Regions from separate parts of the Homo sapiens genome. Here all the other regions are linked to region 1. Evidence: fine-mapped expression QTL. A gene starts in region 1. Each other region holds a variant in brackets. All regions are shown on one strand. Distances are between the middles of the regions.

What was found. PIP is the estimated chance that this variant, and not a neighbour inherited with it, causes the effect.
Region 2: its variant is fine-mapped to the expression of FAM171A1 in stomach (GTEx, PIP above 0.99).
Region 3: its variant is fine-mapped to the expression of FAM171A1 in whole blood (INTERVAL, PIP 0.98).
Region 4: its variant is fine-mapped to the expression of FAM171A1 in whole blood (INTERVAL, PIP above 0.99).

What each region holds. Positions count from the first base shown.
Region 1 is chr10:15,368,564-15,374,132 of GRCh38, forward strand. It overlaps FAM171A1 (family with sequence similarity 171 member A1), which reads right to left and starts at 2,726. Exons shown (of 8, transcript NM_001010924.2): 1 at 2,393-2,726. The coding sequence starts at 2,489. RefSeq lists silencers at 2,483-2,712, 2,723-2,772.
Region 2 is chr10:15,344,420-15,349,988 of GRCh38, forward strand. The region is part of intron 1 of FAM171A1 (family with sequence similarity 171 member A1); the gene reads right to left. Among named protein-coding and RNA genes, the nearest start is that of FAM171A1, 24 kb to the right of the region's middle. The variant C/T (reference allele first, on the strand shown) is at 2,485.
Region 3 is chr10:15,248,484-15,254,052 of GRCh38, forward strand. FAM171A1 (family with sequence similarity 171 member A1) reads right to left here. Exons shown (of 8, transcript NM_001010924.2): 5 at 156-332. Among named protein-coding and RNA genes, the nearest start is that of FAM171A1-AS1, 43 kb to the left of the region's middle. RefSeq lists an enhancer at 1-248. The variant C/T (reference allele first, on the strand shown) is at 2,673.
Region 4 is chr10:15,163,055-15,168,623 of GRCh38, forward strand. It overlaps NMT2 (N-myristoyltransferase 2), which reads right to left. Exons shown (of 12, transcript NM_004808.3): 1 at 5,449-5,569. The coding sequence starts at 5,558. Among named protein-coding and RNA genes, the nearest start is that of NMT2, 2.9 kb to the right of the region's middle. RefSeq lists silencers at 3,282-3,482, 5,009-5,569. The variant A/G (reference allele first, on the strand shown) is at 2,958.

The DNA of each region.
Region 1 (5,569 bases):
TGAACTTTTCTTCTTAAAATGCAAGCCAATGATGATCACTAAAGGTTGCGTTATGGTGTAGGTATTAGCTATGGTTGATGCTTACCTACTCAGCACCATCTGAGCACCAACTGTATGCATAACAACCTACAACCCACTGTGGGAAATGCAAAGTGAAATCAGATGCAGCATTTGTCTTCATCGTGTACATGATCCAGGAAAGCAGAGAACACATGAATTTTAAAACTACGTCATACTACAGCAAGTGAACATTAAGATGCTTTGAAGAACTCAGTGAGTTGGGACTGACCTTCTAATGTCAAAGGAGAAATTGTCCATTCCCTTAAAAATGCTGCTAGCTCAAAATCCAAATGCCAGGTAGTGAGACCTGATTTCTGAAAGAGTTCCTGGGCTCAAGGCTTTAAAAAGCCATCCTTACAGTAGATAACAACAAAGGAAGTAATCCAAGGGGTAAACTATGCCAAGATACTTGATCTCCCACTCCAACCATACCCTAAACTAAGCCACTGCTAGCCATGGCAGAAACCTCTTCTCATGTTGACCATTTCCCTCCCATTTCGCATAATATTCCATTCCTGAGAGGCGGATTTTTAGCAGCAAGAGCTGGGTAAAACGTGGTCTTAGACCTAAACCTGTTATATATATATTGAATATATATATATATATATATTGAAGACATGCCTTCCTTTCTCTAATTCAGAAGTGCATGAATTTAATATTTCCATATATTGGTATTTCAAGTGCAAAAGGAAAAATTCAACTTGCTCTTTAAAATTAACGGCCTCGCTGAAGTGCAAATATCATTCTCTAAAATAGCTGATTCAAAAAAGCAGTAGGGTATTAATAAAAGAAGCTGCAATGCAACACTGATGATCTAATGTCCTAAACATTCGTTTCCTACACGAAGAGACATATAGGTCTTTTTGTATTTTGTAGCTGTCCGCTCTTCCATGATATGCATTACTAAAATTATACACAATTCATAACGGTCATATTCTACCATGGCCATAGAAGCAGCAATGCATTTAAGATATACCAGGAAATGATACTGCAAGTGCCAGAATATGAAAACCTTCAACTCAACATGTAGGCAACAAACTCAACCCAACAGAGTGTTGGCAGAGCCTTTCCTCCCCGTAGCAACATCGTGGTGGAAGCCCGGGCGTCTCTGCTCCCAGGCACCCTGAGCATGTTAGCCGAGGAAAGGGGGTTCCAGCAAGGAGACCCTCGGATGCAGCACTCCTCGTTTCTTTGGCCTGCAGGGCCAACTTTGCAGGACACACACCCTTCTGAGGGGACAGGCCTCGGGCTCGGAATCCCGGGGTTCTGCAGGGCTGCAGGGAGCTCCCTCGCAGAGACCTGAGCCCCCGGCAAGAGTCCAGGCAGCGGTGCCCTGGGTGAATGCAGAGGCTCATCTGCGGGCCTCAGTGGCCCTTTTGAAAACGCCAGCAACAGAGGAGTCCTCGACGCTGTCCCCACAAAAATGTGCCAAGCAAGCCTCAGGGTGGGTGTGGGGGACTCCCCTCAAAAAACGCTGATTTTAAAAACAAAAGACAGGCTCGTGGCCATTCTCAGAGGCGACCACGTTACTCCCAGGGCTGGAAAGCAGATTTGTGGAGGCCAAAGACGAGACAAAAGGCACGAGCTGGCGACAAACTGATCTGGAAAGGATTTTTCTTTTTTTTTTTTTTTTTTTTGGTGAGCGATGAGGGCCTCCCAGTTCAATTCTTTCTTCCCTTACAGAGAAGACTCATGGGCCGCTGAGCAAATCCCTTATGGTCTGGAAGAGACGTCAGATAGGCAGGGGGAGAGAACCCCCCAAACTTTCCCAAACTGCGGCAGGCTAGTGGCTAGTGGCGGCAGCGGACCTCGGGGCCCCGGGACACAGGGGGCACCCCGGGGCGTCAGCCACCCCCTCCCGCCACAACAAAAGGCCCCAGCGCAGCCCAGGAGCTGGGACTTCCCAGACCCGAGCCCGGCGTGGGGAGCCGGGAGCGCGATCGGGCGGCGCGCCCTGGGCGGCCCCTCTGTCCGCGGCGACATGGGAGACAGAGCCGCGTGTCCGAGGCGCGGCATAAAGGGGACCCCCGGGCGCATCCAGACGAGCCCCCGCCGCAGCGGCGACAGCAGCTGGAGCTGCCCGCGCCCCCGCCCGACCCAGCCCCCGATCCCCGGCCCCCGAAGCCTCCGCCCGGGTCACCCCGCGTCGCCGGCCCGCGCCGCCCCCTCGGGAGCGCGTTGCGGGTGCTGCAGGCCCGGAGGCTCCCGATGCGGCTCGGGCTGCGTCGCCACCACGCGGCCCGGGACCCTCCCGCCGCCGCCGCCGCCGCCGCCGCCTCCGCGCCAGGCCCGGCGCGACACAAAGCCCCCGGCCCCGCCGCCGCCCACTGACCTTGGGCTCCGGCGCCGGGCTCCCGCAGCGTCTTGGTCACCGCCTTCCAGACGTGGCAGCCCAGCAGGCACAGCAGCAGCGTCGCGGACCTGCTCATCTCCGCCGCGGGGCCGGCGGCGGCTCGGGCTCGCCGAGAGCGGGCCGGGCGGCGGCGCGTCACGGGCGGCCGGGCGCCGCGCCCCCCTCCATGTCGCTGGCTCCGCGCGCCGGGCCCGCCGCCCGATTGGCCCGGCCCCGCCGCCCCGGCCGCTCCCTCCCGCGCCCCGCGCCGGGTTTCCCCGAAGAGCCGCGGCGGCGGCGGCGGCGGCGGCTGCTGCTGCTCCGCCAGCTCCTTAACCCCTTCCTGCCTCGCCCGCCGCCGCCGCCGCTGCCCGCGCCCAGGCCCCGGGCCCGTGGTGCCACCTGGCGGCTGCGGCGCCGAGGGCGCCCCCGCCCGGCGCCGCTGCGTCGCGCCCCCAGCCCGACCCCCGGCGACACTGCCCCGGCGCGCCCCATCCCCGCAGCCCCGCAGAAGAGCCAGACCTGCCTTTCAGGGCGGAGCCCTTTTCATCACACCAGGTCACCCAAGGGGCCGCAGGAGACATTGTATCTGGGTGTGACCCCCCCACCAGGTGCCATCCTAATGTAGTTGTGTCCCCCAACGTAGATTTCACACCCAGTGTTAAAGATCCGCAAAAACACTCCCCAAGCCAGTATAGACTGCAGTAGGCCTGCAGTACCTACGTGTTGGCGGGTGGACAGCTTCAGGAGGAATGGTACTTGGATGGTTCTAGGGGTTAGGGTGGGGAGGAAATCCACATCTTTTGAGGCCCTAGGTGCTTTAAAACTTTCTGTCCTATTAAAGAAAAAAGACTATTCCATGACACGTGTGAAAGCACAGCAAAGAAGACCCTCTTTGGAACCATCGCAATAGGTATAAGCCCTACCATGGGATTCTGCAGTCGGGGAGAAAGGTTGGGTTCAACTCTGAATACAGCAGGAACAAGTGGGGATTTATAACCGAGGACCAGGGTGGGATGCAGGGAATGAAAAATTATAAGAGGAAACATCAGGGGGAAGGGGGATTCTTGAAAGTCAGACATCCCCTGGCAGGGCTGGGCAGGACAGGGCGGATGGGGAAGCTGATCAGATATCCAGGGTGGAGGGTTCTTGGTAAACTGACTTAGCAGGGTTCTTCCTGAAAGCAGATTTTACAAGGAAGGGCACAACTGAGCCTAGAAGAAGGTTCCGGAGCCTGACTGTAGTTCGGTCAAGCAGAGACTCTTTGTCCATCTTCACAATACATGATCTAAGAGGTAGTTAGCATTATCCCCCCCATTCACAGATGAGAAAAGAGGCTAAAGAGGGTTAAGGAATTTGTCCAAAAGTGCATACCTGGTCAGTGGCAGAGCCAAAATTCTAATAAAACAGTCAGTCTGACCCCAAAATTGAAACTCTTCACAAAAACCTCCAGACTTGGCTGGGTGTGATGGTTCATGCCTATAATCCCAACACTTTGGGAGGCTGAGGTAGGTGGATGGCCTGAGTTCAGGAGTTAAGAGACCAGCTGGGCCAACATGGTGAAACCCTGTCTCTACCAAAAATACAAAAAAATTAACCAGGCATAGTGGCCCATGCCTGTGGTCCCAACTACTCAGGAGGCTGAGGTGGGAGGATCGCTTGAACCTGGGAGTGGGGAGGTTGCAGTGAGCCAAGATCGTGCCACTGCACTCCAGCCTGGATGACAGACTGAGACCCCGTCTCAAAAAAAAAAAAAAAAAAAAATCAAAAAATAAAACCACCAAAAAAACCACACACAAAACAAAACCAAACCTCTAGACTTTCCTTGAGCCTAGGGACCCCCTCCATTCCAACCTCAACTTTTCTTTCTCTCAACCCACTCCTGTCGGTATGCCTTCCACACAACCTTCACCTCCACTTGTCCCTCTCCACCTTCTCTTCCAACTAGCACTGCGGTGACCTTCCGACTTCCACTGGGGACCTAGGAAAATCCACTCCAGACCCATCATCCACCCCACACTGCTTCCAGAACACCAGGCCAGAAGGAGGGTTATTACTGTAATTTCATTAATTGAGCATTTAGACATGGCAGGCACCGTACCAAAAAAAGAATGAAGGATGGCACTTGCCCAGTTGGCTTATAAAAGACAAATGACTGTGAGACATGAGAAAAACTAGGACGTACAGAAGCCCATATGGGTTTTATAGTCACCCTTAGGACCAATGCTGCAATTTGCGCAAATCACGCACCTGCACAGGGTGGCAGGTAGTCAGGAAGGCAGAAAGAAATAGGGACTGCTGGATTCCCTCCTTCTTCTGATTCCTGCATCTAAGCCTAATATATGGCATCAAAGTTCCTAATATATGGCACTCACTGAACTGGAGCTATTTCCTCATAACAACTTATTTGGTAGGTATCATTGTTTCCATTTCACAGATGAACAAACCGAGGCTTGGTGCCATTAAACAACTTGCCCACAATACAAAGATCTGATAAGTGTAAATTCCCTATACCATGTTACTTCTGAGAATAAATTTTATGCAAATGATTCAAATTACCTCCAGGAGTGTCCAAATTGTTTGAACCTGCTCTAATCCCAGTGAAGTGCAAATCTAGTGAATACTATGGTGCCAATGTTCATTTCCTGGCATTGACAGTGTACTACAGTTATATAAGATGTTACAATTGGGGGAAGCTGGGAGAAGGATAGATGTGACCTCTCTGTACTATTTTTGTAACTTTTTATGAGTCTATAATTATTTCAGATGGAAATATTTAAAATAGAAAAAAAATCCCATTCTATGCCATTTTTCTAAGTCTTATTGTTCACTCAAAACACTGGTGTTTGTGATCTTAGTATAGAGTTCCAGAATGTTTCAGGGTGGAAGAAATCTTAATAAACTGAATCAAGTTGGGTTCACAATCTTAACTGTATCAAGCTTGTCCAACCTGCCTTATTTTGTTGTTGTTGTTGCTGTTGTGTTTTTAGACTTTTAGCAGCCTAAAGCCATCGTTTTCAGTTTCCATCTCTAGTGATAAGTGGAAAAGAGGGATGAGGAAGGGGCTTTACTGGCTCAACCAAAAATAGAAATGAAGAACCCATGACTGTATTCTCTCCCTTGGACACCCCTGCGAGACGCTCAGGTCTGATGGAGGTGGTTGTTATTATCGTGTAT
Region 2 (5,569 bases), 24 kb before region 1:
AGAGTCCCAGTCCCAGCTACTTGGGAGGACGAGGTGGGAGGATCGCTTGAGCCCAGGTCAAGGCTGCAGTGACCAAAACTGCACCATTGCACTCCAGCCTAGGTGACAGAGCAACACTGTTTCCAACAACAAAAAAAGGATGCCCAGGTACATTCAAATTTCAGATGACAAACAAATAATTTTGTGTAAATATGTCTCATGCAAAATTTGGAATATCTTTATATTAAAATTTTATTTGTTGCTTATCTGAAATGCAAATACAATTGGTGTCCTGTATTATAACTGGCAACCCTAGGGATAACAGCCCCAAAATAAATTGTCTAGCTATGTTGTCCTGTGTTTCAGACTTTGTTACTTTGTCTCAGTGGAAAAGGATGACAGTATTACTGGATAAAAACATTTGCGAATCTCATGTTTGTTTCCCAACAAAATGCTTTGATATTCATAGGCATAGGGGCCACCTAAGAATAGGCAGAATATTCGTCTCACAGTTACTTTTCAGAGCGGAGTTCTTCAGCCCTGAACAAAGGACACAGCAGAAAGGAAACACAGCTGAGCAAATCGATGGAACAAAGGAAGCATTCAACTCACACCTTGCGTCATACACGCACAAAACTTCAGCTATCTGTAGAAGCCAGAAATGATGATGAAATTTGATCTGTTTAATCTTGTAACTATGAAGTTCCACTTCCTATTTTTTGCTTCTGTGGGAGGTGAGGGGAAGACACACAGTAGAACTTAAGGAGAGAAGAGAACGAAGGAAATTGGTACGATCACATTGACTTTTTCAGAAAACACTGCGCAGGACCAGATGAGTGAGTGGCAGTTCTGGCCCTAAGGAGAGACAGACATGAAGATGTGCACCAGCAATTGCAATCTGGGGCGGGAAGTGTCCGGACCCTCAGTGCCTAGAACAGGGCTTGGATCACTGTGCCGTTCCATAAATATTTTCTGATTAAATAGCAAAGCTAAGCACACAGACCTGGGATGGCAGAACGAGAGGGGATGACACCCAAAGGGGACAACACCTGATGCTTTAGGAAGAGTGAAAATGACTCCATTAAGCAAAAACACCCTAGAAGAGTGACCTGTATAAAGGCAGGGTGGCCGGGGAGTGAGGATATATGTCATCAGTGAGGATATCCAGACAACAGCCACTGCACAGGCCGGTGGTCAGGAGGGAGGTCTGGACGGGGGATAGCCTTGGGCATCCATCCAGGAGGGGGCTGGGAAGTGAAGCCCTGGTGCAAAGGAGATGCTCTAGAGAGGTCAGGCCTGGGATCCTAGGCCACGTCTTCCTCAAGCAAAGAGCAGGGTGCCCATCAAAAAACATACAGGTTCCTGGGCTCTAGAAAGCTGAGGAGAGCAAAGGTGCAAAGAAGACTACGAAAGGACAGATCAGCCACATAAGGAAAGCCTAGAGAGGCCCCTGCCGTGGACAGCAGGACAGACTCCTGGGGTGACGGAGGCTCCAGTGTACAAGGAGAGCAGACCCAGAAATGTCCGCTGGATCTGGAGAAACGGGTTACTGTGATGTGATAGGGAAGGGACAGACAGCAGACAGCTAAGGCATGAGTTCCCCTTAAGCAAAGGGAAAGATTGTATAGACAGCAGCTTCTGTCTATGAATGGAATGAAGGAACAGGTGGAGGGGCTCTCCCATCAAAGCGGGGCTGCTTCACAGGTATTTTTTGTTTGTTTAGAGACAGGGTTGTCTTGTCACCTAGGCTGGAATGCAGTGATCTCAGCTCACTGCAGCCTCCAACTCCTTGGCTCAAGTGATTCTCCTGCCTCAGCTTCCCAAGGAGTTGGGACTACTGGTGCGCATCACCATGCCTGGTTAATTTATTTTTAATTTTTGTAGACACTGAGTCTTCCTATGTTGCCCAGGCTGGTCTTGAACTCCTGGCTTTAAGCAATCCTCCCGCCTGGCCTCCTGAAGTACTGGAATTACAGGTGTGAGCCACTACGCCCAGCCCACAGGCATGTTCTTATGGTGGGAAGAGGCCTCAAGATCTGTATGAAATGAAGAGATGGAGCCACAGGCAGGAAAATGATTATACAGCTCCCGAATGAAAGCTCAAATGCTCTGAGCAAGAACTCACAGATCCTTTTTCTCAACTTCCTTTCCCTGCTATTCCATCCAGGAGATCCAGATGCCCCGTAGCAGAAACAAGCCGAGGTCCATCTGGACTACAGCCCACTCCTGATGTCCAGGCTCTTATCTGGCTGAGTGACTCTTCTAATACAGAAGGCGTGGAAATGAGTGTTTCAAGAGGTATGGGTCCAGCACACCCAACTCCACTGAATTCATTTAAAGACACAGAACAAAAATCAAAGCCCTGTGAACTAGGAAGGCAAGTGCTCACAAGGATAGCCATTTAAGTGATCCTCCAGAGTCTTCTGAGATTCTGCAAGCAGCTGAGAATCTCCAGGGAGGTAAATTACTAAAAAGCCACTGGAGAATTCCACCGCTTTAGCAGTG[C/T]CCGAGCCACTTTCTACAGAGGGACAAAAGACACAGAGGGAGGGGTAGCTGGCAGAGCTGGCTGCTGTGCTATCTGGACATGGTGCAAAAAACACGGCTTTTTGCTACGTCAACTGTAGTAAAAGAGATCTCAGGAAGACCTAGACATTTGTTAAAATTAAACAATTTTTTTTAAAAGAATGGGAAAATCAGGCATTCTGCATCTCTGAGCAACAATAGCCAACTATTATTTCTTTAAATGAACCCCAAAGAGCACTCATAAAAGACTTATTCAAGATGCCATTTGCACAATACTAAAAGATCACACGAACAGAACTCATAAAAATGTGCAAGCTTTATAGTTGATAACAGTCGAACTCCATTTAAAAAGAAAAAGCATAAAAGGGTGGTTCAACATGAAGTACAAACTGGACCTAGGACAACAGCAGTATTTCTGTTGCTCCCTGAAGCAGTTTTCATTGGGTCGGAAATCGATGCAGTCTGACTGGAGGTGACCTAAAAGCAGATGAAAGACAGCCAGGCCCAAAGTCCACAAACAGCATCGGTAAGACCTACTGAGAGTTTCTTATGCATATAATAAGTATGCAATACAATATTTTTATTGTTATGAACGGAGTCACCAAGTATTTACCTAGAAAAAGCTGCAGAATTCGGCCGGGTGCAGTGGCTCATGCCTGTAATGCCAGCACTTTGGGAGGCCGAGGCGAGTGGATGACAAAGTCAAGAGATGGAGACCATCCTGGCCAACATGGTGAAATCCTGTCTCTACTAAAAATACAAAAATTAGCTGGGCGTGGTGGTGCGCACCTGTAGTCTCAGCTACTTGGAGGCTGAGGCAGGAGAATCACTTGAACCCAGGAGGCAGATGTTGCAGTAAGCCGAGATCGCACCACTGCACTCCAGCCTGGGCAACAGAGCGAGACTCCATCTCAAAAAAAAAAAAAAAAAAAAAAAAAATTAAGAAAAGAAAAAGCTGCAGAATTCCTTCCACATGATTTGCGTTCTACCCCAATGCTTGACATACTAAATCCACCACCTCTCTTGAAGCTAGGTTTTGAATAAAATGAGAATGACATTTTCTTTCTTTCTTTTGAGACGGGGTCTTGTTCTGTCACCCAGGCTGGAGTGCAATGGCACCAACTCGGTTCACTGCAATCACCACTTTCTGGGTTCAAGCGAGTCTCCTGGCTCAGCCTCCCGAGTAGCTGGGATTACAAGCGCCTGCCACCATTCCCGGCTAATTTTTTGTATTTTTAGTAGAGATGGGGTTTCACCATGTTGGCCAGGCTCATCTCAAACTCCTGACCTGAGGTGTTCCGCCTGCCTCAGCCTCCCAAAGTGCTGGGATTACAGGCGTGAGCCACTGTGCCTGGCCAAGAATGACATTTTCTAGGTAGCCTTTTTTTTGGTTTAATGTATAGACAGGGTGTCACCATGCTGCCCAGGCTGGTCTTGAACTCCTGGGCTCAAGTGATCCTCCCGCCTCAGCCTCCCAAAGTGCTGGGATTACAGGCGTGAGCCCCCATGCCCGGCCTCTAGGTAGCTTTCTTAAATTGAGATGTTAAAAGTCTAAGGGAAAAGGAGTGGCTTGTTTACCTGTAGGCAGAACTGACTGCAGTGTAACTAGGACCCCTTGCAGTCACCAGGGTCTATGACGGCGTCCTGGCTCTGCCCCTCTCTGTTCCTAACCATCAAGCCTGGATGTGCAGCCCTGCTACTTCGAGTGTGGTCCTCCAACCAGCAGCATCAGCCTCACGGAAGAGCTTGTTAACAGTACAGCCTCTCAGGGGCCACACGGGACCCTGAATTTGAATCTGCATTTAACAAGATCCCCAGCTGATTCCCATCCATGCTTCGTGACGCAGTTGAGCAGTGAGAAAAGCTGGCTGAGTGAATTGCTGCCCCATTCCAAAAAGCCATCGGGAGAACGGGCAGCAGCTGCAGGAAGTGACTTTCACTGTACTCCATTTCATTTTATCACACTTTCATTTTATTGACCTTTTCTCTAAAGCAACGGAGCTGTTTTCCTTTGTTTTATTCATAACTCTTAATTTTTAAAAGTAGTCTGACTTCATGCTACCATCTCAAATTGTATCAACTTTAAATTATTTACATGAATCGGGAGGGAGGAAATGGAAACCATTTTTCACATTCGATTTATATCCAATCAGAGTTTTTTCTTTTTTCACAACAGTTGTTAAGTTGTTAGCAAACCTGTGTTTTCACAGCAAGCTAGGAAGTCCCTTAGATCATTATCCAGAAAAACGGCATGTAATTAGGACTACACAGAAAGGCGCCCTAGAAAATACAGAACAGGGCTAGAGGTACACACCTGCAGACAGGTGTTCTACAACAAGGCTAAGTGCACATCTGTCCACCTGGAACAGCAATCTTGCTTACTGAGTAGTTAACTGCATGCAATAAACTGTGAACTCAGGAAGGGCGAGGGCCATGCATGTAACTCGAGTAGGAGGGGTTCAATAAATATCCATGAATCAGTGAATCGATGAATATCACTTAAAACAGGCTCTTCCCACAACACTCTGCTCCTTCCCTTTCAATTCCTGTAAAGGCCAGAATATTAAAGGAACCTCCAAGTCATTCTTGATTGCTAAGAGGCCACTAGCCACACTGAGATGGCTCCTCCAGGGTGGCCCTCATGAGGACCACTAAAGGGCTTTTCCCACCAGGAAGTAAATCACTCCTATGCCATCAGAAGGATGTTCGGCATCAGCTTCCCTATCCTGAACACTTTTAGGACTTGGAAAGGTAAACGTGGCACCGATCTGGGTGTAAATGGCTTCACTCAACAATGTTCATAATCTCTTTCTGCCCCTGCTAAAATTCTCTTGAAAGAGGTGGAACTTTCTGTACCCTTTTGGTTGCTGTGATGTGGACACTCTTTAGTTAACTGAAAAGGCAACAACAAGAACGAGGAAAGAAAGTAAAAGAGATCAGCCACAAAGACAACTAAGGGTGTTCTAAACAAATCACATGAGATTAGCAGAACAGGTGGGCTGGAGGAAAATTCATGCTGGAAAAGCCAGGCGCTTTGATGTTGGAATATCTGGTTGAAGATGAACCA
Region 3 (5,569 bases), 120 kb before region 1:
AGGGTGCCGTCCCCATGAGAAACCACACAATGCAATGTGAGCAGCAGCATTCACTGACTTCAAGGAAAGGAGACTTCCATGAGCTTCTTAGAAGGAAAACCAAACAGTAACGAAGCCATCTGGTAGCCGATTGTCGGCACAGAACTCTTGCTTACCCAGCTTCTGGTCAAACCGCCACGCCGCGACATAGGCATTGTGCCTCAGGCTGCTCTGCGTGGCCAGGGGCACAGTGACATAGATGGGACCATCCACCAGCACCGGCGTTCCATTACTGCTCAGCAAGTGGACGCTGACGGCTGTGACTGGGGTCAGGTCATGCCTGGTGCTGTTTCCTAGAAGGAAGAGGCATTTTCCATCATTTGCATGCAAAGTACCCATGTGGGGCTGTGGAAACCTTTGCAAAAAAATAGTCGCAGCTACCATTACCTCCTATATGCCAGGGACTGCATGAAGCACTTTACATACATAATCCTCACCACAACCCAGTAAGGCAGGTAAAATCGTCATTTTTACACACAAAGAAACAGGCTCAGAGAGAGTAGTAATGGTAGGTGGCCTAAGGGCATACACTCAGTATGGGCTGAGCTGGAATCTAGGCTCAGGTTTTCTTTTTTCTTTTTTTTTTTTTTTTGAGATGAAGTCTCATTCCGTTGCCCAGGCTGGAGTGCGATGGCACAATCTCAGCTCACTGTAACCTCCACCTCCTGGGTTCAAGCGATCCTCCTGCCTCAGCCTCCCAAGTAGCCGGTATTACAGGCTTCCACTACCCTGATGGATAATTTTTGTATTTTTAGTGAAGATGGGGTTTTGCCATATTGGCCAGGCTGGTCTCAAACTCCTGACCTCAGGTGATCTGCCTGCCTTGGCAATCCCAGGCCTGTGCTGGGATTATAGACTTAAGCCACTGTGCCCGGTCAGGCTTGCTATTTTTCATTATTGTGTTTTGCTTTCAAAAACGATCTCAAAAGAGAAGGATTTTTCTATAATGTGAGACAAAGGTGTAAGTGGAAATCACCGGAAATAACTTTTACACAAAGTGAGCCCCATGCACATGTTAATTACTTGGCAGATAACCTTAATAAAACCAAATGTTTTAGAGCAGAGGCTGCTTTTTTTTTAACATAGCAAATTTCTTCAAGGATTGCTTCAAAAATATTAACTTCTGCTAAAAAGTATGCTATTGAGGACTGGACTTGAAATATTTATGAGTTATTTTAATTGCCATTGTTATTTTGATCTGTTTAAAAGGACCTCAGTATACCAATTATTTTCCATTAAAGGCCTTTGGTCCAAGCCAAAGCTTTAATGACTGCCTACAGATAAATTAGAGAATGCTTATGAGACCGATATATTTATGCACTCAAGCAATCCATTTTACATTTTCCTCTAGTGAAATACAATATCGCACAAACTGTGTTGTCATAATTTTACATATTTCTTTGAGCACAATGACAAAAACACAGCGATAAAAAATTTAAGCTGCATTAAAATACAATCTATAGGACTTTTTATTCAGCTACTTATATACTTACCTACCTACCAAACTGAGCTGATGTAAACCTCCAATCTGGTCTACATTTAAACATTTAAAGAAAACCTAGTGAATTTTAGAGTCTCAACAATGAATTACAGCTAAATCCTTCATACAGCAATTTCTACACAGCTAATGCCACCCTACCTTTTATCATTCATACCCGTCTGTTTTTTAATGAAGGCAAAGGTGTGGGAATGGAGATTTCGTGGAAAGATCGAAGTTGGAATCACAGATCCAAGTTTTGAAATCTCTTAGTCTGGTTATGTCATTTTATGGTAAAAAAACAACCAACCAACAAAACTCAGAATTTACCATGTTTCTGGTCCAAAGATTTTGTGTCTTGAAACACAAATGTGCCAGCAGCTCAAAGTTGATAGAGAAGCAAAGCCAGGTCTACAATCTACTGCTCTAGATTCTGTTAGGCCCTCTCAGGAAGATGGAACTTACAACTACAGAAAAGCTGGCCAGGCGCAGTGGCGCATGCCTGTAATACTGGCACTTTGGGAGGCCGAGGCAGGTTGCTTGAGCCCAGGAGTTCAAGAACAGCTTGGGCAACATAGTGAAACCCCGTTTGCACAAAAAAATACAAAAAATTAGCTGGGCATGGTGGTGCATGCCTACAGTTCCAGCTACTCAGGAGGCTGATGTGGGAGGATCACTTGAGCCTGGGAAGTGAAGGCTGCAGTGAGCTATGATCACACCACTGCAATCCATCCTGGGTGACAGAGTGACACCCTGTCTCAAAACAAAACAAAACAAAAAAAGAGAAACTACAGAGACATTAAATAATTTACTAGACTGTATAAACAACTGAGAGATAATGTTTTCCATCAGGGAGTGCTGTTTTCTTTCATCAAACTCTAGTCAAGATGTCCAAGTACGTAGGTAGCAGGTACTTGGTAGATAGAGGAGAAAAGCCCTAGAAATGGTGTCTCCCTTCTCCTCCCTTGTCACCTTTCAACTCTCCCTTCCTGCACATTCCCAGCCCAGGAAGATGGAGTCCCAGTACCAGATCTGCCACTCACTGCCTATGTCACCTCTGAAAGTGACTTCATTCCTCTGGGGTCTGTTTTTCTTACCTTCAAAACTAAGGAGGGTAGACTAGATGCCTTCCTGCATCTATGGAAATAAGTACACT[C/T]AGCTTGAAACATTCAGAAGTAAGTAGAGCATTGCAGAAACGAGCATATTAATGGACAGCAATGTGCATTAGGTTCATGGGATTTCATGTCCCTTTAGTGTCCTCTAGCTGTCTTAAGACATTGTGGGGAATTATATCTGCCTTCTTGAGGCCTCTTTCCTCCCTCAGGGCTTCATTAAATGCCTGCTTCTCTATGCCTTCCCAATGACTCTCCCTCTATGTCCCCATGTTGTTTATTCTGCAACGATTTTTTTTTTTTTTTTTTTAGACAGAGTCTTGCTCTGTCACCCAGAGTGGAGTGCAATGGTGCAATCTTGGCTCACTGCAGCCTCTGCCTTCTCAGTTCAAGCAATTTTCCTGCCTCAGCCTCCTGAGTAGCTGGGACAACAGGCACACACCACCACTCCTTGCTAATTTTTTTTTCTTTGTTTTTGTATTTTTAGTAGAGATGAGGTTGGTCAGGCTGGTCTTGAACTCCTGACCTCCCTCCCAGTGATCCACCCGCCTCGGCCTCCCAAAGTGCTGGGATTACAGGTGTGAGCCATCGCGCCTGGCCTATTCTGCAACAATTCACATTTTGAAGGGCTAAACTATTTTCCTTCTCTTTGTTATGAAACTCCAATTTTACACAAAATACTGAGTTTTATATAGAAAGTGGTCATCCTTCCCGTTCCATCTGGATGTTGCCTGGCTCCCTTTAAGTCTGCACAAAGACAAGCAGGTGTCAGGCAAATGCAGCAGGATCGTGTTGCGGGGCAGAACACCACTGGCCCAAGCGAGGAGAGGAGCTGTATCACCTTGGGCCATCTACCTGGTCACTCGTCACGTGACAGGTTCTGCTCAGCTGACATCTAAGGTTCTGTTGGGCTCTGTATTCTACCAACTTTTTGGAATTGCAGGAAAAGTCTGCACCTGTCATTTTATTGACTCTTCTCTGTCTTCCTGGAGTTATTAGTGAAAGCAATTTTTGTAAAAACCCCTTGGGAACACCACGGAACATTCTGTGCTTTCTCAGCAGCTGGGGGAAGAGTGCGATGCTCTCCGGTGAGAGGAGGGGGCCCCCAAGAGCTAGAAAGAGAAGATGCTTCTCCACTTACTTACAACTCTGGATCCACCCTCTAAACCAAACAACACAACCTTCATGGTACCCCCAGAAAACAGCCTTTCGGAGCCCTTTCCAGTCTCTTCCGCAGCCTCTCTGTTTCCATCCACCTTCACTGAACTCTGGTTATGACGCTAGTCATTTTCTGCGTCTTCGGGAGATGAACTTGTGTCATCTTCCAAAGACACGTCTGGTCCAGGCGTGCTCTCTTTAGGCTGTGAGCTCTTAGATGCCTTTAGTAAAACAGGAGATGAGTGACTGTGGGCAAAAGACAAGCTGTGTGCAAACTGACCCCAGGGGCCGCCATGGAGCTGGTGAGTTACTGAGGTGTCTGTGCTCAAGGGAGCCCAGGTTCCAAGTCCCCGAGGGCGCGTGTGAATTCACTATGGGTGGATGCCTTCGCTGCTAGGTCTCCAAGAAAGCCTAGTCATTTCTAGGTCAAGTCATCCATTCTTTCCGTGGAAGAGAAATTTCATGTCACATTGCAAAGACCTCTCTTCCCTTTGAAATCACGGAATGATCTTAAAATAGGACAAACTCCTCTAAAATCAATAGTTCTGTGTCTTAGTGTTCGTTTTCCCCCATTTTCTCAGACTGCATAATTTATTCAAGAGCTACTGGAAGTGGGGCACAGAAAAATTTAATGAGTCCCGAGCACGGAGGCTGTCCCTCCAAGTTAGGGTTTTGTGGATCGTGCACCATTTTGTCCGGGAGGCTGGATGCTGGCTATGATATTTTAAAACTTTGTTTTTTTGTTTTTTTTTGAGACAGAGTTTAGATCTGTTGCTCAGGCTGGAGTGCAGTGGCACGATCTTGGCTCACTGCAACCTCCACCTTCTGGGTTCAAGCGATTCTCCTGCCTCAGCTTCCTGAGTAGCTAGAACTACAGGCACCTGCCACCACACCCAGCTAATTTTTGTATTTTTAGTAGACGCAGCATTTCATCATGTTGGCCAGGCTGGTCTCAAACTTCTGACCTCAAATGATCCACCCACCTCGGCCTCCCAAAGTGCTGGGATTACAGGCATGAGCCACCGCACCCAGCCTTAAACCACTTCTTCATGCTCCCCAAAACAAGACTTTTCTCCCAGACCGGCACATTTCAAGTAATAGTCAACATTTTTTTTTCCTAATAATGTTTACTTAAGATGACTGCTATGCCATCTTTCTGATGACCAAGTACTGACATATTTACTGACAAGTTAATCACATCCTCATCAGCACACAAAAATTAAAGAAGAAACGTTTTGGAAAACAGAGAGAAGAAAAATGAGTAACAAATCACCATGTTGCCTTTATGTATAACCAGAAACTTATTAATATGCTACAAAATGGATCAAATGTTTCAGGTTTAAAAGCTTTTTCAGAATAATCAGTTTATGTAAAGCACTGGAAAATTAAGTGAAATTCAAGCCAAGTATCCCTGGGAAATGCAGTGAGTTACTCTCCTAGCAGAATGCAACTCAGAACAGCCTTTGATTTAAAATTTTAATGCTGTGATTAGTTTAAAGTGTGGGGGAAAGGAAAGTGGGGTAGACAAGAAAATAATTCAGGACTCCAGAATCCTGACACCTCTTCCACCAGGAGGAGTGGGGACCATTCCAGTGCAAAGGGGTCCAGAGAATGGTGCAGTTGGACACAAACAGAGGTGGAAGGTACCCGTCTTGGGTCTTTCTCTGATAAGGAATTATCACTTATTTTCTGGTGGATGGCTTTTAGTTTCTCTGATCTTTTAGCTGTGGCATGCCAGAATAGTGGTACTGACCCAGCTGACTTAGAGACCTGCCAGGAGAGG
Region 4 (5,569 bases), 210 kb before region 1:
ATACGCATGCACCACCATGTCTAGCTCATTTTTTATTTCATCGAGATAGGGTCTTGCTATGTTCCCCAGGTTGATCTTGAATTCTTGGCCTCAAGCGATCCTCCACCTTGGCTTCCCAAAGCACTGGGATGACAGGCATGAGCCACCACACCTGGCCCTATTGTTTGATTTTTGAATAAGCGTATTTTTAAAACGTCATTAACATGTTTTCAAAGAAAACAACAATCAATTTCTTGAACTTGGAGTAGAACTTGGTTCTGTTAAAATAAAGTGATTTTAACTAGTATAGATGTATAACGTACATTTGCACTAACAAACAAAGATGGCAAAGTATGTGTCCTATATTTAGACAACCCTGGAAAAAATTTGTTCTGGGCCAAAGGGTGACATCACCCATTCAGATGCAAGTCTTAGCAGACACTTGATCATTTCAAACAGTAGTTCTTGATTTGAGGAGGTCCCTCAGGCAAAGACTGTCGTTAATCTATTTTTCCATTTAGATTTATACAGTTGATAACAGATCAAATTTCAGAAAGGGCAGCTTTGAGTTATCCCTAAATTTTCCATAAGAAAAACTTATTGCAAGTCATAATGTTTCTGCATTTTCCCACTGATACCACACAGCTGACAAAGGGGAAGTTCCCAACTCAATTTCAACAACAGACATATGAAGTCAGATACAACAACATAGTGCCCAAAGAAGAACTTCCTTTTTTTACCCCCTAAATTGGGGATGGTAGAAGACAGATTATGTTCTTTGTTAAAAGAATTCCAAAGTTTTCATCTTTGTCCAATACCAGATCTTCAATCTTTCTAAGAAAAAGAACTCTTAAAAACGTCTTAGGCCGGGGACGGTGGCTCACGCCTGTAATCCCAGCACTTTGGGAGGCCGAGGCGGGCGGATCACAAGGTCAGGAGATGGAGACCATCCTGGCTAACATGGTGAAACCCCGTCTCTACTAAAAATACAAAAAAATTAGCCAGGCGTGGTGGCGGGCGCCTACTGTAGTCCCAGCTACTCCGGAAGCTGAGGCAAGAGAATGGCGTGAACCTGGGAGGCAGAGCTTGCAGTGAGCCGAGATCGCGCCACTGCACTTCAGCCTGGGGGACAGAGCGAGAATTGGTCTCAAAAAAAAAAAAAAAAAAAAAAAAGGTCTTAACCCTATTTCATGTCTACCCCAGGGACTAATTTAGTCATGTATCTGCCAACAAAAACATACTCACCTATGTTTATTTTGGTTCCTATATAAATCTTCTTAGTAGCTGCTTCCAGTGAATATTGAGGGAAAAGCTCTCTTAACGGAAAGCTATGAGAAACATCTATTTTTCTAGGAAGTATATGCTCTCTGTAAGTCAATGTTGGTTAAGCAAGGGGACAGATTTGGTTTTGTTACCAAAGTTCAACACGAATTTTATTTGACTCTGTCTCCAACAATGGACCATAACATTAGCTCAGTAAGAGATCATGACCAATACCAAATGTATTTCATAACTGGAGAAGCCGGACATCAAAAGGACAGCGAGAAGACAGTGGGTTCTAAATAATTCTTCAACAATTTGGCCTGTCCTCAATGTCCCCAAAGCCCTTCAGAAGAAAGTAACAGAAGGCAAAAACACAGCAAAATGAGGGAAGTATTAAAGATCCTTGAGCATCTTAACCTCAGATCCAACGGTGAAAGCTCCTAGGAAATTCATCCTCCAGGCCGGGCACCATGGCCTGTAATCCCAGCACTTTGGGAGGCCGAGGCCAGGGGATCACCTGAGGTCAGGAGTTCAAGACCAGCCTGACCAACATGGTAAAACCCCATCTCTACTAAAAATACAAAATTAGCCAGGTATGGTGGCACACGCCTGTAATCCCAGCACTTTGGGATGCAGAGGTGGGGATCACCTCAGGTCAGGAGTTTGAGACCAGCCTAACCAACACGGTAAAATCCTGTCTCTATTAAAAATACAAAATTAGCTGGGCGTGGTGATGCACGCCTGTAATCCCAGCTACTTGGGAGGCTGAGGCAGGAGAATTGCTTGAACCCGGGAGGTGGAGGTTGCAGTGCGCCAAGATCGTACTATTGCACTCCAGCCTGGGTGACAAGAGCAAAACTCCATCTCAAAAAAAAAAAAAAAATCATCCTCCAGGTCACCTTTTTGTACCACTGCCACCCATAGCAGAACAGAAATCTTCAGTAATCTGGACTATTTCTAATAATTCATATAGGAAGCTGGACTGAGGTTAATTTTTATCTATGTAGAAAGTCTTTCCAGGCTCCTTCAAGCTCTTTATAAAGACCTACTCCCTAATTCTAATTGCAAATCGTGTGTTAAAGTAAGTTATATAAAGATGTCTTTAGGCAATCCTCTATTAGCCTGGTTCTAATTGCCAAACATTGTTTGAAAATAATAAAATTATACTTGTCTGAATATAGTCTCACTAATTAAAACTGACAATCCCTTCTTCCCCCATGTTTTTTGTAATTCATGAAAGTTTTATAGTGGTTTGCCACTTCCACGCTTGGGTGGACCAAAAAGTTAAAGAGTACATTTAACTCTTTACACTGGCTTACACCTGTAATCCCAGCACTTTGGGAGGCCGAGGCAAGCATATCACCTAAGGTCAGAAGTTCGAGACCAGCCTGGCAAACATGGTGAAACCCCATCTCTACTAAAAATACAAAAATTAGCTGGGTGTGGTGCCACGCGCCTGTAATCCCAGCTACTTAGGAGGCTGAGACAGGAGAATTGCTTGAATCCAGGAGGCGGAGGTTGCAGTGAGCCGAGATTGCACCACCGCACTCCAGCCTGGGTGACAGAGAAAGACTGTCTCAAAAAAAAAAAAAAAAGGTACATTTTCCATGAAAAACAAGATATAAAGACAGTGAGACTCAAGTATTTTATAATACTTACGCCATTGCTTTTAATTAAACATAAAACATCTGATATTTCATTCATGGACTCTTAGC[A/G]TTATCTATAAAACGAAATACCCTTTTTAGTCCATGAAGAAAATTCCATGAAAATAAAAGAACAGCATATGCAGTTTTACATATTTAAATACTTACATTTTGGTGCAAAACAAGACTCTAATTGGGTATTTTCCTTTTATTTGAGGCTTTAGTTTCAACTTAATATGTCTAAAAGGACTAGTAAATACATTATACTGAGTGGTGGGGTAAATGAATTCTTTCAGGCCACAAGGGCACTATTCAGTAAATTACCTCTCTGCACTGGCCGCTGCCTGGTGGCCTCAAATTGACAAACTGCCTTTAAGAGGTGAAACATGTTCTTACTGATTCATCCAAAGGCTCATTATTTGTTATTTATTTAAACTGATGGGAATGAAGAGGCCGAGTATAGAAAAAGAGTCTTTCAAATTTTAACATTTACAAACTTGAGCTACTTAAAGAAAACCTAGGTTTCTACTGCGATATCATCAGTACATGAGCCAAATAAAACACATTTACTCCCCCAAATTTGGCACACATTGTCTAAATTCAAATCCAAACAGGCAATCCAAGGAGAGCAGTCATTTGGAGTTTTCCTAATCTCCTTACATTTAAATAGAGTACAATACATCCATTATGTTAATCTTTTCCCACTAGAAGCTATTAACATGGTATCTGCTCTTGGTGAAAACATTTCAGTCCATGGGGCATCTCTAAATTTTGATTAACCTTTCTAATATATAAAATGTGCTGATATACAAAACTGAAAACTTCCGAAGGCAGCACAGATGCCTCTGGGTGCTACTCTGGGAACTTTAGCTTCTTGAAAGGTGTCGGGGGACAGGCTCAGATCAATGCGCACACAGATGAGGAATTCTTTGTACCAGGGGCATTCTCAACAGTGTAAGCAAAGAAGTCCTAATCAAGCCCCCAACCTAGAATATCAATCAAAGGAGGAACAATAAACAGAAATTACAGCAGAGAAGATAAAAGTCCAGGGTCTCTCCAGAAAGAAAACACAGGTACTGAAGCTAATCCATCAGCTTGCATCTGCACCTGGGCCCATTTCTGGCAATAGAACTACCGTTTCAAAAACATATTTGTATTTAGCTATCTATCACAAACACGTTTCTATCCCTGCATAAACAGGGCTCAGGTTCAGATTCCTATGCAATTTCCTTTCCTCTCTTTAAAAAAAAAAATATTCTAGACTCGAACATTCGATACTTGCAGCCGCCACTGAAGTATTCACGGCAAAGATAAAAACAACTTGCAAATGGGAGATGCACATAGTCAGCTTTTCTTTTTCTTCATTTGTTAATATTTTATAATGAATTAGAGGTCAGTCAAAAGTCCCTTTCTATAATAAATCTTAAAGTAGACAAGTAGAATGCAAATGATTTACACTTTCAATGATCAATCATTTCAAGAATCTCTCTACGAACTGAGTAAACCATCTGTGACTCAGGCCTCCCTATCATGTTTTTTAAGCTGACCCACTTCTCCATCACTCACCATGGTTCGAAAAATCTCACTTCTAAGGGTGTAGCAAGAACCGCTCTGTGCCAGCGCATAGTTTGAATCCAATAGGGTAAAAGGGTAATGTAAACAGCACTTTAAAAGGACACCAGTTTTTATTTAAAATGACCCACTGCCTCTAAAAAGAGAGCATCAACACCGGCCTTCACCTGAAGCAATCCTTTTCTCCAACAGAAGAGCAAATCAAGTCTGCAGGGTTCGGGGGCAAAGGGAAAGGATTAAGAAATCCGATCAAGTGTGAAAATGCGTGGTGCATCGAGTTTTGGAGATCAAATACCAGCTTTGCAAACAGGATACGGCCAGGTCAGCGGGAGCCCGGTTCAGGGGATCGGCCCTGCTCTGAAGAGCTCTAGGGACAGGCGAGGCGGTGCAAAGCCCAGTATCCCCAGCAGGGGCCGGGCCCGGGACCCCCTCGGCGCCAGAACTTTGCGCAGTTCGCCGCCTGCGGCCCCGACACCATCGGGGCACCTCCACGCCGCTCCACCCACGTCTTTGCCCATTCTTTTCGGGTGGCGGCTGCGGAGAGGGAGTCTGAAGGGACTTAACAAGGATGGCAGGGAGCAGAGGAGGGCGACCTCCTACCCCAGGCTGCGGCCGCCACAAAGGGAAGGGCGTAGCGCCTCTCCTCGGCGCCCACCGGAGCCACCCGCGGGCGAGGGCAACAGGCGCCTCCTGGGCCAGGCCGCCGGCGGGGATGGGCGAGGCTGGCCGGGGGCGCGCGGCAAGTGACAGTAGCGTCTCCCCGCCCGGGCCCCAGCCTCCCCGCCCACCCCGGGCCTCGCCTCCCCGCGCACTGCACTCTCCCGCGAGCCGCGCGCCCCGGACCTCACCATGGGCTCCGCGCCACGGAGAAGCCATCGCGGGGCGGAGCGGCCGAAGAACCCCCAGTCCTGGGAGCCACCCCCGAACGGGAGACCGTGGCGCGCGCGGTCCCCGCCCTGTCGCGCCCGGTGCGCCAGCGCGCCGCCCCTACCCTTTGGCGTGCTCCGTCTCCTCCTCATTGTCCCCGTCTATCCCGCACGTGTCCTGGTCGTCCAGTTCCAGGCTCTGCTGGCTGGCCGCAGACTCGCTGTCCTCCGCCATCGCGGCGGCGC